3 linked regions of the Homo sapiens genome follow. The protein of the gene in region 2 purifies or fractionates together with the protein of the main gene of each other region. This does not show direct contact. Each region holds a gene or a part of one and is shown on either strand. Other genes may lie near its edges. The genes, in order: PEPD, NAMPT and OLA1.

Region 1 (3,326 bases), on a different chromosome or scaffold from region 2:
AGAAAGACTTGTGTTAAATCAGTCCGCCCTTTAACTTGCGCAAAGGCATGGCGCGGGGTGACTTGGCCAGTCTGACCTGAGTGCCTAGGATCTTCCTGCAGCGTTGCTTGCCCCACCTCAAACCTCGGGCTGCGCTGGTACTGACAAGCTAAAACCACCTTGCCTAGGAGTACTTCTCACACTTGTCTGTCAGGAGCATCTGGCGGGCGCTTGTGAAATACACAATTCCTGGGCCATTGCCCCTAGACGTTGGGTCAGATGGTCTGTGGGGGTCCCAGGAATCTCTTACCAAATGCCCCAGTGGTTCTGATGCCTGTTAGGCTTGGGAAACCTTGCAGCAAGTGACAGGGTGACACCAGAGCCCCGAGTCCCAGGGGCTCAAAGCAGGCTCCTCGGGGAGGACTCTGCCCTTGTCCCGCCAGGCCAGTCTGAGGCAGAAGCAGCCGTTAGAGGGCCTGTGCTGCCAGCACCATCTTCCTGGAACTGACTTGATACTGACACCAGGTGAGCCATCTTTTCAGGGTGCACGGGGTCCCAAATGCTCATCTGCAAAGGAATAAAGGGGAAGCCACGCACAAAGGACCATTTTAGGAAACCTTTTATTGCAAATGCCATTCTGCATATTGATTTTTGACAGAAAGTATCAGAAATGCTTCTTTCCTGGGAAAAGGAATATAAATGACAGCAAGACACATTTTAGTTGCTACTAAAGAACAGCATTATTTTCAATCATTTTAAGTCGCTCATTTAATAAGCAAGGTATAAAACAGATTAAAGGTGGGAGCCTGCAAAAGGGTAATTAAAAAAGTGTTTCCTCCCCGGGAAACAGCACTGTTTGGTCTGATCAAATGCCGAAGCTGGGATCTGATTCTGGGTGCCGTCTCTCGCTACTGGAGTGCTGACCAGCAGGCTGCCCATCACGAAAAGAGGTTGCAAGGCCAGGCCCCCAGGTGCGCTGGGATTTCTGGCTGGCTCTACTTGGGGCCAGAGAAGGGGGTAAAGGCCTTGTCACAGCCTGCCATGCATGCTTCAATCTCTTCCACAGTGCGGGGCACGCAGGTCAGCAGCTCTATGCCGCTGTCAGTCACCACGACGTCCTCCTCGATGCGGACCTGGGTCAAGCCGACAGACACACATTATCATAGAGCAGCCTCATGTGCCAGGCTAGAGGGCCGGGCCCATTCCAGGCCCACCCCACCATGGGATGGGAGCAGCTGACACTCCCTGGGAGACGGGTGGCCTCCGGGCTCCTTCATGGAGCCATCTGCCCATGTCACCTGCTCACCCTGTCTTTGCCAGGTGGATGGGAGCCCCTGGAGCGGGCAGGGGTTTTGCAGGATCTCTGTCTGTTCCTACTGAGGGGTGAGGCTCCATCCTGTGACAGACCACACGAAGGGGCAGGCTAAGCCCACCTCAAGGGAAGATGTCACTAGGGCCCCTGTCTTGGGACTAAGGAGTCTGCAGCTGCAGTGGAGGTGGCAGATGTTCTGGGAGCAAGAATGGGGCCCGTGGGCACTCACCCCGCCAAAACCGCGAAAGCGCTGCAGGACCTCGCGGTTAAGGAAGGAGGCGCGGGCCGGGTCCGCCAGGGCCTCATCCAGGAGGTGGTCGATGAAGTAGATGCCCGGCTCCACGGTGAGCACCATGCCTGGCTGCAGGTGCCGTGCAGTGCGCAGGCTCCGCAGGCCGGGCTCGTCGATGCGCTCCACGCCCTGTGGGGAACAGAGGTGAGGGGCCTGATGAGCAGCTCCAGGGCTCACCGTGGCCTCATCAGGAGAGATGGGCATGTGAGGGCCGGTGCCAGTCTCGTGGGCTCTCTTGACCATTGGGGTCCTCAGCCTAGACTCGCCCCTGCTGTGCTGGGCCATGGGCACCCTGATAAGACCTTCCACCCTGCACATACCCCTGGATCTTGAGTGTCCCTGGCCACACTACCCTAGGGCTTGCTTGAGAAGCCCTGTGGCCACCCATGTGCACACACCCGGGGCAAGCTGCCCAGACAGGCCTGTGGGGCTGGCTGAGGGTTGGGCTGCCCTTAGCCAGGCCCCGCTGCTGGCCAGAGGAGTGGCAGATGCCAAACCACTGAAGCCAAAAAAGCTCTTAAGGCGGCTGTGAAGCCCCTTGGGGCCACAGCTTTCCTTCCAGGCAGCCCAAGTAGAAACTGGCCCCAGAAGTCGTGGTCCCAGCTCCCCTAGGCCGAGGCCCAGATTTTCCGTGTGACTGTCCAGGGAGGACAGGTGCCGTCATCAGGGTGGGTCTGCCAGCCTTAGTGCGCCAGTGCAAATGTGCCGTGTGCGCGTGGCTTGGCAGGTGTGGCTCCCAGAGGAGAGCTCGGGGCCTTACGGCAGGGCCCTGGGAAATAGCCCCCAGCCTTGGAGAACGCCTGAGGGACAGTGGTAGAGCCGCTCCCTGCAGGGGCCCCTGTCTGCGCCCCACACTGCCCCAGTGCACACCCAGCCTGGCCTTGTCCACTCACAGGCACAGCTGAGGGGGCCTCAGCTTGGCTGAGGGCAGCGGGTGCTCTGGGAATTACAGGAGAGCTCCTGCTCGCCTCAGGTCCCCGGGGCACCATCCGGCCGGCGGCCAGGGCCTCTGAGCCAGTGGGCACGAGTATGCTTTCTGGTCAGGGGATGAGCCTGCCCTGCCCGGCTGCACTCCCTCCCCAGGAAGCCCAGCTGCTGGAGCGGGAGCTGTCATTTCTGACTGTTTGGGGGCCAAGAACATCAGACTCCAATTAGCAGTTCACGTAAGGTAACCAGAAACAGGCTGGCTCGGCCTCCACGCTGGGCACGGCCAGAGAGGCTGTGACTGATTCCACGGAGGGCAGGGACAGCCACGCTGACCTGGAGAGAGCAGGCCAGGCGGGAGGCGATGAGGAGACACCACAGCCTGGCTGGTGTGGCCCCGGCCCCACAACACTTGCCTCTGGGCCGCTGACCGGGAGCTGAGGCCGGAGGGCAGGGATGCCCCGTGGCTGAGGAACCGTATGGAGTGACAGTCCCTCTGCGCAGGTGAGAGGTGCATGTGGACCGAGCTGGGGCCTGTCTCCTGCCCAGAAGCTGCTGGGGGTCCCAGGGTCTCTGCTCCAGGACCTTCCCGTCCCTGTCATCCGAAGCCTGTGCTGGGCTCCCCCACCCCACCGCCGCCCATCCCTCTCCTTCATGCTATTCCTGAAGTGTCCGTCCCTGTCTCCACCCACAGCAATCGAAGCCAGGGGCCTGGGGGAAGCAAGGGCCTGCCAACGTCAGGTTTCCTTCCTTCCAGTCACCCCTCCATCCCCATGGGCCCACCCCGGCTGCTCCATGGTACACGGTTGAGGGGCAGGT
Region 2 (3,248 bases):
TTGAATGACTACCTATTGGCAAAGGGCCCTAAAAAGCTTACTTTAGCACTCATCTTTTACATGGTTAAATGCATTTCCTAATTTGAGATCACCTAAACACTGGAAAAGAAAAAAAATGAAAGGGCAGTATGTCCATAAACCAACAAATAATTTGGCTGTAATGTATCATAAAACACAAACCCCACACATCTGTACAATAAACATTATGTATTACATACACACAACACACACCCAGTCATAAAGCCTAATGATGTGCTGCTTCCAGTTCAATATTCAGCTGTGCATTTTTTCTTATTTCATCAAATGAATAGCTTTTTGTCACCTTGCCATTCTTGAAGACAGTATGGAGAAGATCCTGCATAAATGGAAATTTCATGATTATATTACATTATTAAGCAAAATACCTGAATCCTGGTTTGATGAATTAGACTAACCAACCAGTCAAATACAGAGATGCCAATGGTGTTCAAATTGTGAGATGATTTGATGCATAAAAAATGCTAGTGGAACAAGGTACTATCTAAAATGGCCAATCACTGAGTTGCCTGGTATGTAGAAATATTTAACTTCTATGAAAAGGAATGACCTTAATACTACATTCTTAAACCAGTTTTCTTAAAGGAAAACCAAGAAACCTAGCTGACCAATCTTTTTTTTCCTCAGGCTGAAGGAAGATGCCTGGGTGCCTAGGGAGAACTGTAATCATTGTGAGTGTGCAGCAAAAAAGCCTGGTAAACCCTGCCTTGTTCCTGGCCAACAAACTCAACAGTGATTAAACTTATCAAATGGAAGTTTAAGAAATTTGCTAGTGCTAAATTTGGGTCTAGAAAACCCACAAAAAGCCAAAAGCCAATCCCAAAACAGAAACAAAGAAAAACAAGTATTGCATTCTTGACTAACACACAGTGACTGGGTTAAAGATTCTGTTTATACTCCAAAAGTCAATGACAAAGGTAATCCACTTCATCCATACAAGAGTAGCAAAGACAGATTGAAGAAATTAAATTCCCTTTGGGTCTGGTAGAGCCACTCCTGTCTCACTAAGGAGTTACCTGCTTCTGGTTTCTCTCTGAAAAATCCACAGAAGTAATCTCAATTTTCCACCTAGTCTGAAGATTGAGGTGCATATGACATTATCTAATATTTCTGTCATTGTGTTGCTTCAAACCACAGTGCTTTAGCTGTAGCATTTTCTTTCACAAATTTAAATTTAAGGGAATACTAGTTCCTACTCTTAAATCAAATTGCCTAGATGATTATGAATTATTTTCTAGTTTATTCTACTATCATTCACATACTCTTAAATCAGTGTCTTTTAAAAATCACACTTAGATTTTTACTTTTAGTTTGAAGTGACTTTAGCTCATCTAGGATAAACTAAATCTGCCAAAATCTTAGTAGGTACAAGAGTTACACAAAGCTTACTCAAATAATTGCCTAACAGGCTATATAAAGGGATCTAATTCTAAAAGTTTGATTTACAAACATATTTTTTCATTAACGGTAACAAAGTTATTTCAATTCTGGCTCAAAACCTTAATAAATGTAAAAGTAACATGTTATAAGCAGTAATTGTGATGTAGTATAAAGAATCAAAATAGGAAGTAATAGTGCACTCATGTTTAGTGTACTTTTTTCTAATAATATGAATATTCATGAATAGTTCTGTCTAAAGTTTTTTTTGATCAAGTGGCTTAAAAACCAAAAATTTTTTAACTTGAGTTCACAAATATAAATGTACTTTTGTATGCTAAAGACCATTAGATCATATGAACTACTTTAGTGTACTGTAAATTTTTCTAGTTTGGTTGATTTGAATCAGAAAACTTGGTTAAATCAAGGTTTCACCATTTATTATGTAATCCAAATCAAGTCACCTTGTTTTCACATTTTATATTAAAGTAACATAGTTTGCTTTTGGATAAAGTGTATACAAACTTGCTGTCAATCACTATACTTACGTAATATTTCTCCCTATGTATACACAGGCCCCGTGTTTATGACGTAGACACTTGTTTTGTATCTTATTTTGGTAGGCCAGGTCAGCAATTGGACATTTTATAATAAAATATAATACTTTGTCTTCCACAAAAACAATAACATAAAAACCTCCTTTCTTATTAATTTGGTGAGCCAACCTACTATTGCTTAAAAAAACCAATCAGCATAGATACATACCTGACCATATTCCTCAAGGTCTCCTTTTCCTTCCTCCAGTGTAACAAAATTCCCTGCTGGCGTCCTATGTAAAGATAATCGGCCCTTTTTGGACCTTTTGTTGGGATCAGCAACTGGGTCCTTGAAGACGTTAATCTGAAATCCAAATTAAGAAAGTTAGACAAGTAGAAGACTAATCATCAGAAATGTCTAAACACTCCCTTACAAAAAAGCACATACATAATTTACATTTAAGTTTTAAGCACTTAATAGGTATAACTGAACCAATCCACATCTGGCTTTCAGAAACATAACACTTTAGCCTGTTTTGAAGGATAGTCGTTTGTAATAAAGAAAAAGTATGACATCTTGGATATCCTTTTTGCCACTGAAGAACACCTAATACTCCATTTGTAGGAAGTCTGTGAGCATTCTAACATGTGACCCTTAAGGTATCTCTTTATATTACAAACTGCCTTTAAACTGACAGTAAGCACAGCATGTACATGCTGTTGAAGAAAAGCCCAACTATACCAACTACGCCAAAACCACACACACAATCTTTGGAGAGGGAACAAGAGTATTACTAAGGTAAAGGCTTTCCTATTTCATAACGTATCCCTCTTTTGGTACTTTTTACTTTTGCCTTGTTATTGTCAGAAGCAAAAGTCTTAGAGAACCTGAAGACAGCAGAGTGTTTCTACATCAGAAAGGTAGGCAGCAAAGAAACAGAAACAAGTGGCAGTGGAACAAGCAGCAACAAATGAGTCAATCCCAGAACTTTCCAAAGAAAGATCAAAGAGTGAAGCAGGGAATCAACTCAGGTGTTCTTAATTCTTAGCATCCTCCTGCCTCTGTCCCTTGCTCTATAGAATCTCCAGCTCTCAAGACGTTACAAAGAAGCAAGGGGGGTTGTTGTTCACTTGCCTAGCTGTTCTATGGCTACTAGAACATGACTGTGGTATAACAATCCAAACCTCATATTCTACCTTCCTGTAACAGTTTGGTCAGTGATTATATACTTGCTTGTCTTTAATATATGATGGCTAGGTAAGCTGACATTCCTACTCAAATATTACTTTTTGATCTAA
Region 3 (3,655 bases), on a different chromosome or scaffold from region 2:
ACTAACCTTAAAATATAAAACATCTCAAAAGTGATTAGGGTGTACTAATAGGTAGCAGATTCAGTGTGGATTTGTGAAAGTGATCAAGGGTGGCCTTTTAGATTGGTGGCAAGTAGGACAATCATGTTCTTAGGTATTCCGAGGAGCTCCTGTCATAGAGATTCCTCAATGAACAGAGCATGGCGTGACCAAGTGAGGCATGTCTTAAATTCATGTAATGTAAAACATGAGCAAGTGTGGCTGTCCTGATTTCAGTCTTTCCTGGAGCTTGAAGAGGTTTTCATTTTGAAGGGGTTTCCTGCTGTGATATAGTCTGCTTGCAGAGTAAGACTAAGTAGAGAGTTGAAATGTAAGCAAAACAAATAATTAATCAAAATACTGTAGGGTGCTATCAATAAACGTGAAAGCAAGCTATGATCATTATTTATGTTGTGAGCTTTATTGCACTAGTAAGGAAGTTAAGTTTTGAGATATTGACATACTTCTCATTCTAGAATTGTTGCAGTTACTACAACTTGATTTTAAATGGGACTATATTAAAATGGGCCATATTAAGTGTTTTCTGTACATATAGGCAACCCTCTGTATCTGTGGTTTCACATCCTTGGATTCAACCAATCTCAAATCAAAAATATTTTTTTAAAAAATTGGCTGGGCATGGTGATTCATGCCTGTAATCTCAGCACTTTGGGAGGCCGAGGTGGGTGGATCACTTGAGGTCAGGAGCTTGAAACCAGCCTGGCCAACATGGCGAAACCCCATCTCTACTTTAAAAAAACACAACAAAAATTAGCCGGACATGGTGGCAGGAGCCTGTAATTCCAGATACTCGGGAGGCTGGGGCAGGAGAAACAGCTTGAGCCCGGGGGGTGGAGGTTGCAGTGAGCCAAGGTCCCGCCACTGCACCCCAGCCTGGGTGACAGAGCGAGACTCCGTCTCAAAAAAAAAAAATTTTTTTTTAATTAAATAAAAAATGAGAATATAACAGTAAAAAAAATAGTAAACAACTATTTACCTATCATTTACATTGCATTAGGTATTATACTACACCATTGTATATAAGGGACTCAATCTGCTGGAATCTTAGAACCAATCCCCTGCAGCTATGGAGGGACGACCATAGCTTTTTAGTCATAGAGCATAATGAAATTAATGTACGTGGAAGTAACCTAAAAATATTTTATTATTCAGAATAAGTGTGTGTGCTGTTTACACTTTTAAATAAAATGCTTTCCCCTCCCAGTGTCATTGAGGTATACTTCACAAATAGTAAAATTCACTCATTTTAAAGGTACAGTTTAATGAGTTTCGGCAATTGTATTTGGTTGTAAACACTACTTTTTGTAGAATGATCTTACTTCACACAACTGTATCAGGTAGGATTCTTTGTAAGCAACACAATTCTGGCTGTTTTCAGCAGGAAAAAGAGGTTTATTGGAATAAGTGAATTACAATCTGAACAGCCAGGCCTCAAGAGGGATAAGAGCCAAGTGGTGCTGGCAGAAATGGGTCCATGTGGAGCTCAGCCATGTGAATCCCTGGATTTCTGGGTGTTTCTCATTTCCTGTCTCTCCTGTAATTCCAATTCCTGAGTAAGGAAATCCGACCGGACTTGTGTGCTTCTGTATAGATCTACAAGATATAGATTGTGGGAGGGAGACGGTTCTCTAAAGGATGGCCTGCTGATCAAAAGTAAGGACATTCAGTACAAAACCATCTAGAGAATCTCTTGGTTTTTAGCTGGGTGAATAGGAAGGCTTACTTTTTAGTCTGCATAAGGCTGATGACCCAGAAACTTAGAGGTAATATTTATAGCTAATCAGATATTGAACATTTACTATATGCCAATCGCTATTTTGAGTACTTTATATATATTATCTAATTTAATAAGTGGTTTGACATTCCCCTCCATTGCAATTTAAATTCTGTGAAGGTAGGAAGGTACCGATTGTCTCGTTCTTGCTTATTGGTATATTTCTAGTGCCTAGACTGGTGTTAGAAACATAGTAGATATTTAGTAATTATTTGTTAACGGGACACGATGGTGTTAGGAACATAGTAGATATTTAGTAATTATTTGTTAATGGGATACATATTTCCCCTTTGACGGCTGGATGTAGATTTAGTGATAAGGAGACATGTTTTTGTTTTTTGAACAAGATTTTATTCTCTTGCCCAGGCTGGAGTGCGGTGGCATGATCATGGCTCACTGCAGCCTAAATCTCCCGGGCTCAAGCAGTCCCTACTCCTCAGCCTCCTGAATAGCTGGAACTGCAGGCACACAAAACACCGTGCCTGGTTAATTTTTGTATTGTTTGTAGATGGAGTTTCACCATGCTGCCCTGAGGCTGGTTTCACAGCCTGACCAGCGTGGTGAAACCCCATCTCTACTAAAAATACAAAAATTAGCCAGGTGTGGTGGCACGCCCCTGTAATCCCAGCTACTCAGGAGGCTGAGGCAGGAGAATTGCTTCAACCTGGGAGGCGGAGGTATCAGTGAGCTGAGATCGCGCCACTGCACTCTAGCCTGGGTGACAGAGCGAGACTCCATCTGAAAAAAAAAACAACAAAAACACAAAAAAGCCTGTCTCCTTGCCCCGTGTGGTGGCTCACGCCTGCTGGAATTACAGGTGTGAGCCACCGTGCTGGGCAATTAAATGACCTCTTTTAATGAAGTAGAAAGAATATGGAGATTTGGTTTCTAGTTCTGTACTGCTTTTTCTTACCTGAGTGACCCTTTATAAATGAGCTCCTGTTGGAGCAGTGTATTATTGTGGTTGTGAGGCTTAGAGAATATTGGGGGCGAAAGTACGTTTTGATACAGTGTTCCAAACTTCTTTATTTCTGTGAGGGATAGCTCTTCTTGTTGCTATCCACTGCATCAGATGGGATTAGGTTCAATTAAGAGCATCAGAAAACCCCAGATAACCAGTTTTTTTTCTTCATGTAAAAATGTACATTTTGCAGTCATAGCTTGGTATAGTGGACCTGCTTTATGAAGTCCTCAGGAACCCATGCTCCTTTCACTTCACAGCTTGGCAATCCCTAGGATGTGGCCTCATCCTCATGGTCTAGAGCTAGGGTTCCCGAACCTCATGCTGGGGACTGGTACCGATCTGTGGCGTGTGAAGAACCAGGCTGCATGGCAGGAGGCGAGCAGCAGGCGAGTGAGCATTCCCACCTTAGCTCCACCTCCGGTCAGGTCAGCAGCAGCATTCGATTCTCAGAGGAGCGCAGGCCCTGTTGTGAACTGCGCATGCAAGAGATCTAGGTTGCACGCTCCTTATGAGAATCGAACTAATGCCTGATGATCTAAAATGGGGCAGTTTCATCCTGAAACCATCCCCCACACCCTTGGTCCGTGGAAAAATTGGCTTCCATCAGCCAATTCACGGTCCAGTCCCTGGTGCCAAAAAGGTTGGCGGCTGCTGGTCTAAGGTGTTGTGAATTCCAGGCAGCTGGTTATCCGAAGGGTCAGGGGGCCAAACTTGACTAGCAGCCTTTTTCCTGTAAACTGCCATACCATACTTCTGCCAACATCCCTTTGTCCAGAATTTAGTCACAAGAATTTAGTTGCAAGGAAGGCAAGGAAATGTAGTCTTTATTTTGACAGCCACATGTTTGGTTAAAAATTCTGTTACTCTTGGCTGGGTGC

What was found.
Region 1: the proteins of NAMPT (region 2) and PEPD fractionate together in Homo sapiens (co-fractionation; one large-scale study listed by BioGRID). This does not show direct contact.
Region 3: the proteins of NAMPT (region 2) and OLA1 fractionate together in Homo sapiens (co-fractionation; one large-scale study listed by BioGRID). This does not show direct contact.

Annotation. Positions count from the first base shown.
Region 1 is NC_000019.10:33,386,370-33,389,695, forward strand, and holds the end of PEPD (xaa-Pro dipeptidase), read right to left. Parts: intron 1,713-3,326; coding exon 1,521-1,712; intron 1,113-1,520; coding exon 975-1,112; 3' UTR 581-974; downstream 1-580. UniProt on the Homo sapiens protein: Dipeptidase that catalyzes the hydrolysis of dipeptides with a prolyl (Xaa-Pro) or hydroxyprolyl residue in the C-terminal position.
Region 2 is NC_000007.14:106,250,839-106,254,086, forward strand, and holds part of NAMPT (nicotinamide phosphoribosyltransferase precursor), read right to left. Parts: intron 2,314-3,248; coding exon 2,179-2,313; intron 356-2,178; coding exon 245-355; 3' UTR 1-244.
Region 3 is NC_000002.12:174,241,926-174,245,580, reverse strand, and holds part of OLA1 (obg-like ATPase 1), read left to right. Parts: intron 1-3,655. UniProt on the Homo sapiens protein: Hydrolyzes ATP, and can also hydrolyze GTP with lower efficiency. Has lower affinity for GTP.